Homo sapiens: one gene and its partner. The protein of the gene in region 1 purifies or fractionates together with the protein of each later gene. This does not show direct contact. Each region holds a gene or a part of one and is shown in the gene's direction. Other genes may lie near its edges. The genes, in order: ZFHX4 and GRHL1.

Region 1 (3,825 bases):
TAACTGAAGGACTTTTTCTTCTTCTTATTCTCCCTTTTCCACCCATTGGTTAACATAATCATATTTAAAATAATGGATTCTTGTTCTAAGAATGCCTCTACTAATAATCTCTGGTTTCCTAAAGCAAAAAGATAGGAAAAGAAAAGAGATTCTGTTATTGGAATATTAATCCTGTTTTTGACAGAAAGGTAAACTGATATAATTGCTTTTCAGTTGAAGGAATGGGGGTTTATACAAGTGTGAAAGCATCGGAAAAGGATTAGCATTTTTTTGCATAATGAAAAGCTCTGTTGAATAGGGTCCTGAATGGCTGACTGAATGACTAAGATGAAAGGAAGATGAAAATGCAGGCTTCTCTTTCTTTATGTCTATGCTCCGCTCTCTCTAAAGTTATGTTTGTCCAAGACTTGAGAAAACAAGCAGGGGCTCAGATTTCAGCAACTTTATAAGATGCTGTGTTTTCATCATCATTGGGACGTAATGTGTATGACAATAGTGCAGCTAGAAGATGATCAACAGAGGTTTGTATATAGAAGAGTTTCAGAAACATGCCAGGCTAGCCAAATATTGACTATTGGGTATCAGGAATTCCCAGCACTTTGCTGGCAAAAACAATTATTTTAGAAGAGCCAATAGTATGGTGTGGATATTTAATTCAGTTAATGATGGAATATAAGGTGCCTGTTTTTTTCCCCATAGGCTATAAATAACTATCTCGATTGGTGAAACACTTCACTTGGGAAAGAGTTGTGTAATCTGACTTTTGGCAATGTTAAGTGTTTTAAGTGGTCTATCAGCTTTTGTGGCTGGGAAGGGAGAGAAGAGGGTACTGATGTATTTTCTTAAGATTTAATTCATAAAGTTCTGAATGCAGTCTTCATGTTGCTTTGTAGGTGTATTGTGTATTTTATTTAGAGATAAGTCTTTTTAAAAGTGTCTAGGTATTATAAGTTCACTCTTGGAGACATTTGTAGTAGGGTCCCCTGTCACTAGTTAGGGATGTAACTGGTTATCAGTTGACAATGTGATCAACACTCTTAATGATGTTTCTTCAGCCAGCATTAGGACAGTTAAAATACCATAAGTGTGAAGACTCTTTCAAAGATCGGAATTGGTTCTTTTGTACCTATGTAAATCAAATGCAGTGCAGATAATTATTTATATGTATACATTTTAAACAAGCTCTTTCTGGTTTGAGGTCACCACAAATGATCCACCGATGGCTGTCTCAGAACAAGGTTAGAAGATCTCATCAGATATTAACCCAACTTGTTTGTTGCTAGATTTTAGAACTTCCATTTGCCTCATCACTTTAGCAGTTTTGTTGTTGAGGTACTATTAAGATGGTTAGATGGAAACTTGGGAAATCACAAGTATTTTTACATAAATTAATGTGTAAGGGTTGACTCTTGAGTACAGCATATTGTAAAGGAAAACTGTTTGATCTATGTTATATAGTCCCCCAAATTTTTTACTGGAGTCCTTTTTAAAATTTGTCAAGAAATTCTGGATTGTTTCAGAAACTTTTATGGTTAACTTTATGATATGCTTGAAAAAAGTCTTAAAAGAACAAAAAAATCCACATGGAGGCTATTCTTTTACATGCAGAAGGGCTTATTAAGGTATTTCCATAAGAAAATGTGTTAATTTAAAAAATAAATTCATTTATATTTTAAGACATTGTTAACCAGGCACCATGTGTTGTAACTGGCAGTTTTCCAGCCACCATGGAAGTGGATCACACATGGGTTAATAGTAGCTTATGTGATGTCTGCATTCTTAGGAAATGGGCAAAAGCCCAGGGTATTCTGATATCAAGATTTTAGAAATCAGACAGAAAGCAGAATATGTGTTTATATGTGAACAGATGGACACATGTGAGAACTAAAAGTGCACAATTTCTCTTGGCACTTGTTTTAGTTATCCCTGATGATATAACCAAGATCTTAGTGCACTCACAGTCTTTGATGGCTAAAGACGAAATGGGCTTTTAATGAGGGCTCGATGGCATTATATTCTTGCATAAGGATTGTGCCCCTTGTGATCTTGCTGGACTTGATGTTCTGTTAATTCCCTAGTTTCAGAGGTTCACAAGTTGCCTTGAAAGTTTGATATGGTTTCATATTTGACATACAATCCTCAGTCCAAGAATGGCTGCTCTCTAGTCTCCCTTTCTTTTAAAGGTTTGTGAATAGAATCAAATATTTGCCACTTTAAGGCATATTTGAGTTTATGCACTGGACTTAAAAATGGCTTTGGCACTAAAGTCATATTTAGTAAGCAGCTTATCTCTAATATAATTAACCACTTTAACATTCTAGAGACTGGATAAAATAAACAAATACGATTTAAGAATTTGGGCAGACTGACTTAGTTAATACATCATAATGTCCTGATGGTCCAAGAAAAGTTGTGAGGACGTGTTTTGGTCACTCAGGTTAGCGGTTCACACACCAGCATCATCATTCAGATAATAGATCATTTCTAATGTTTGTCTGACTTGAGGACACAACAGTGCTCAGATGATAATTACTGAATGGTATGCACTGTAGGACATACCTCTAAAGACAACATTTATAGGTTTCATTGTGTTCTAGCTATAAAAAAGAAATCACTCTGCAAATATTTACTCAGGTCTAAATCATTTTAACCAGGGAAAATTGACTTTCAGGTTAAAATATGCATTTTATAACTGCCCATAAAATTCTTTTCCTTCACTGTAAAGAAGAAAGGAAATCCATAGTTCTAACAATGTTAAAATACAAAAACATATGAGCTGGTGTATGCCACCTGGTTATATTGTTAAAAACAAAATGAAACATAACTTCTTAAGAGGGAAGTTTTTGAGGAATCTTAAAGTTTGTCTGCTTGGAAGAATAGGTTGAAAAAGACCAATCATTTTTACATTTCCCATGGTATTTTCATTAAACCTGAAATACTTTGCTAATGTGGATTTTCAAAAATATAGTGCTTAGTAGTTTTTAAAATACCATAAATTTTGGAATAATGCAATTAATACTTAAGATTTCCTGAGCCCATTAATTGAAAATTAGAATTAATCATCTCTTTTGGTTTAGTGGATACAACTGTGTTTCATCATCCCTAACACTCCTACATTCCTATTCAGTAGAGTATATACAGACAGACACACACACACACATACACACACGTCTACCCTCTTTCCATGTTAGGCCTCTCTTTCCTCTTTAGATGCATTCCTAGTGGTAGCTTGTGAAGTTTTCCCTTCATAGGCTAAACTTCTTTCATCTTCTAAGAATTGGCCAATATAATCTCAACAGAAAAGAGCAACTAGGATGGTAAGGCAACTAGAAATTACCAAAATGCCAGAGCCTGGGAAGTGGCCTTACGATCATTCAGTTCAATTAACTCATTTTAAAATATGGGCTATTGAATTAAAGAGAGTTATCTTTGATTACCCAGCAAGGCAGGAAAATGTTGAGACAAGAATTCACATATTCTAACTCTAGGACCAGTGGTCACTCAACTGTATTGGCTATTTGAAAAAGGCTTGTTGAATGAATGAATATGAAGGTTGTGGAGATGGTGAAGAGTTGGAAGGAAAAATGTGCATGATAACCTGTCTTCTCTGAGAGAGTGAGCTCTCTGTTATCGACAGGAGACAAGTAGAATCTGGATGGCCTCTTGTTATTGTGACTGTTAAACATATTTTTGTGTTAAGTAGGAGGTAGATTAGGTGCTCCAAATGGACAAGAAGAGCCTATGATTCATAAAAATACTGATGATTTCAGTGACTTAAAGTGTATTTATCATAATCATAAACATGGTGTGAACAAGAACAACACT
Region 2 (3,825 bases), on another chromosome or scaffold:
GCGATCCCAGCTCACCGCAATCTCTACCTCCCAGGTTCAACTGATTCTCCTGCCTCAGCCTCCCGAGTAGCTGGGATTACAGGCATGCATCACCACGCCCGGCTAAATTTTTTGTATTTTTAATGGAGACAGGGTTTCCCATGTTGGCCAGGCTGGTCGTGAACTCCTGGCCTCAAGGGATCCACCCACCTCGGCCTCCCAAAATGCTGGGATTACAAGCGTGAGCCACCGCGCCCAGCCCACTTGTTCTCTTTTAAGTGATGATGCATATTTCTAGTTCCATCTTCACTTTGTGAATTCTGCTTGGTTAGATCTGCCACATGGTTGATACCAGGCCCTTGGACTGAATCACAGCCTTCAGTGATAACCTTGGCCATATAGGAGAGTATACTCAAGAGTAGGGCCAACTTGGGTTTTTTCTTTCATTTCCTTTTCCTACTGGACAAAGGGAAAATACCCTTGTGTCTTTGCAGGCATGTGGTATACTCACAGATTTTCTCAGCTTTCATTTAACACGACCACATCCATTATAAGGAGAAATTTTGCTTTTTTTTTTTGAGACAGAGTTTCGCTTTGTCACCCAGGCTGGAGTGCAGTGGTGTGATCTCAGCTCACTGCAACCTCCACCTCTCAGGGGTTCAAGCAGTTCTCCTGCCTCAGCCTCCCAAGTAGCTGGGACTACAGGTGCCCGCTACCACGCCTGGCTAATTTTTGTATTTTTAGTAGAGGTGGGGTTTCACCATGTTGGCCAGGCTGGTCTCGAACTCCTGACCTCAAATGATCCACCCACCTCGGCCTCCCAAAGTGCTGGGATTACAGGCATGAGCTACCGCTTCCGGCCGGAATTTTGCTTTATTTGTTTTTCAAATAAATGTTGTTCCCTGTGATTTCATAGAATTAAAAATAATTTTAAGACTAATCTTTTTAGAAGAAACTACTATGATAAGCCTCATGAATATAGTAAGTAATGGGGTTCCTGTCCAGAGAAGGGAGAAAGGCTTCTTCTTCCATTGGTCAGGATAAGAGTTAAATATTTTAAAGAAGATTGGAAAACAGAATCATATCTTGTCTTCTCTTAACCTACAGGGAGCTGAGCGGAAAATCAGGGATGAAGAACGAAAGCAAAGCAAAAGAAAAGGCAAGTGTCCTGACCCCAGCTCCCAGGTGAATGCCTGTAAGTAGAAATGTTCCCGGCAAGCTTCAGACCTTTTCCATTGAGAATGGTGGCTGGAGTTTGCACGCAGAAGACAGTGGGTGTTCTTCCTGTTCTGCAGTGTGGCACTGCCTCTTCCTCAGATCAGCAGCAGATGCCAGCTCAGCGGGAGGGGTTTTCCTGGGGACTACAGGATAGATCCCTGGGTTTTCCCGACCTCAGCGTTTTTGGCTCTCAGTTCTAGTTCAGACTTCTGTTTCCAGTCTTGAAAAATGACAACACGTTCTGCATGAATCACTGTTAAAATTGGGACTTATCTAGATTTTTTAAAGTAATAATAATGGTCTTGAGAATTCAAGATGTCTTAACTCCAAGTAAGATCATATTTTGTATCTAAAGTATAGTATTTTAATATTTGCAGAATCTATAGGGCTTCTGTTTGGACATTTCACCAGGAAGGCTTTGTTTTCTTTTTTTTTTAATTGTGACCAGTATTCATATTCACAAAATCTTGTATCTAAAATGAAGAAAGTGCTGTTCTGTGCCTGTAGGGTTCCATCTGTAGTACATGGGCTTCTGGCAGCTCTTTTGAATGGTCTGTCTGGCTCAGCAGACATTTGCCCTGCAACACCTTAGTCAGGATTCTCCTACTGGTATCAAAGTACAAACTCCCAGTGACACTTCAGAGAGCAGCTGACTAACTAGGAGACCTCATTACTGAGTACTTCAGGGCCAGCCAGATCATTGGGGAAGATGGAGTCTCTAACTTACTAAATTAAAAATTGGATGGGCATGCTTACACTTCACCTCATTGTCGAGTTTCTTGATATGTTCTGAAGTCAATGGGTCCATGAGTGTTGGAATGTAAATTATTTAATGAGGACAGCTGAGGTGAAATTTCTTCCAAATTATGTTTACACAATTATACATTTTAGCCTTTCCAATGAAAACTAAATACGCTCTGCCTCTGTCGCAAATCTTCTGTGGATATGCGTCTGTGTGTGTTTGAAGATACCTTTTCCCTTTTGATTTGATAAGACATTCAGTTGATTTTAGTGGAAATACACACAACAAATTCCTTTACATAAACTGGGATTCTTAGGCAGGCAGCGTGCCCTGTTGTATCTTACAGAGTGCTACACTTGGAGTATCTTACTCAGAGGCGAGCACTCTGTGGCCTGCATCCAGTCTGTATGTAATCCTTTGACCTTGGCTTCCTCTTTTTTAATTTTTTTTTTTTTCAGTTTCTGATGTTAAAGTGCCACTGCTTCCCTCTCACAAGCGAATGGATATCACAGTTTTCAAACCCTTCATTGATCTCGATACTCAGCCTGTCCTCTTCATTCCTGACGTGCACTTTGCCAACTTGCAGCGGGGCACTCATGTAGGTAACCAGGATCCCAGGGGAGGTTACCAGGAAGGAAGGCATGGCAAAAGGAAATTCTTTGGCATTATTCATGGGAAACAGAAGCCAAAATTGAGTGAGGTTTGACCAGTTAGTCAGCTCTTTGGAATATTCTGCTGGGGTGACATGATGCCCGTGCAATAAAAATGGTAAGCATCGCTGATTTCAAGGTGCAGTGCAGCCTGTCAGCTTTATTCTGTTTGTATTCATTCATTCATTCGTTCGTTCTTCATACCTACATATCCTAGCTCATTTAAAAGATTCTAGAATAGTAGCATAATTTGGAGTTTGAGCCTGTCATCTTTTTAAACTTAACTTGGGGCAATACCTAGGTTAAGGAGCTCTTATAACATAAGAACATCCGAAGGCTTTTCTCACAGTTCCAGTTACTGAGCCGTCCTTGCCACGTGTAGTTACCAATGGCCATGTCTTGGCAACTAAAACTAAATTTTAAAAAATGGTCACGCCCTGTTTTGTGGCAAAGGCTTACAAGGGATAGAAACTTCAGTAGAATGAAGCATGGTTTTATGCTGAGTGCAAATAAATATCAAAAAGACAGTCTTTCATGCACTTTGTGGACAGATTTATAAGGACTAAAGATTCGTCAGAGTTCTTGGGGCCATGGCCAGTACATTTAGTTTCTAATGGGAAGCTGGAGGTGAGCAGGGGTTAGCACACTGTTTTTGTGAAGGGCTGGGCCGTAAAGGTTTTCAGCTTTTGGGGCCCCGTGGTCTCCACTGTGCTGCTCAGTGCTGCCGAACTAGTGCACACATGGCCATAAGCAGCATGTGAATGAATGAGCGTGGCTTTGTTTCAGTAAAGACTTTATTTACATGAACTGGCTTTAGACCAGATTTGGCCCAACCACTGAGTTAAAGGAGTTCAAGACATCTGTAAGAATCTGTTATTGAAAACTAAGGCTAAAGGATTTTATATTAGATTGGTGAAATTCAAAATTATTTCCATTTTAGGAATAATTCATTTATGGCCAAACATTTTGAGCATACATTTGAAAAGCAATCTATTCCTTTGGTCTTAGGTCCTTCCCATTGCCTCTGAAGAATTGGAGGGTGAAGGGTAAGATTTATGTTTTGTTTTGTTTTGTTTTAATAATGGAAATGATTTCAAACTTGTAGAAAAACTGCAAGTACAGTACAAAGAACTCATTTTTCCCTGAGCCATCAAGGATAAGTTGCCAGCCTGATGGCCCATCACTCCTGAATATCGTGGTATATATTTCCTACCAACAAGGACATCCTCCTGTGTC

Evidence for each region.
Region 2: the proteins of ZFHX4 (region 1) and GRHL1 purify together in Homo sapiens (co-immunoprecipitation; one large-scale study listed by IntAct). This does not show direct contact.

Annotation. Positions count from the first base shown.
Region 1 is NC_000008.11:76,687,582-76,691,406, forward strand, and holds part of ZFHX4 (zinc finger homeobox protein 4), read left to right. Parts: intron 1-3,825. UniProt on the Homo sapiens protein: May play a role in neural and muscle differentiation. May be involved in transcriptional regulation.
Region 2 is NC_000002.12:9,989,610-9,993,434, forward strand, and holds part of GRHL1 (grainyhead-like protein 1 homolog), read left to right. Parts: intron 1-1,086; coding exon 1,087-1,138; coding exon of another isoform or gene 1,139-1,174; intron 1,175-2,397; coding exon 2,398-2,537; exon of another isoform or gene 2,538-2,707; intron 2,708-3,365; exon of another isoform or gene 3,366-3,597; coding exon 3,598-3,635; exon of another isoform or gene 3,636-3,825. UniProt on the Homo sapiens protein: Transcription factor involved in epithelial development. Binds directly to the consensus DNA sequence 5'-AACCGGTT-3'.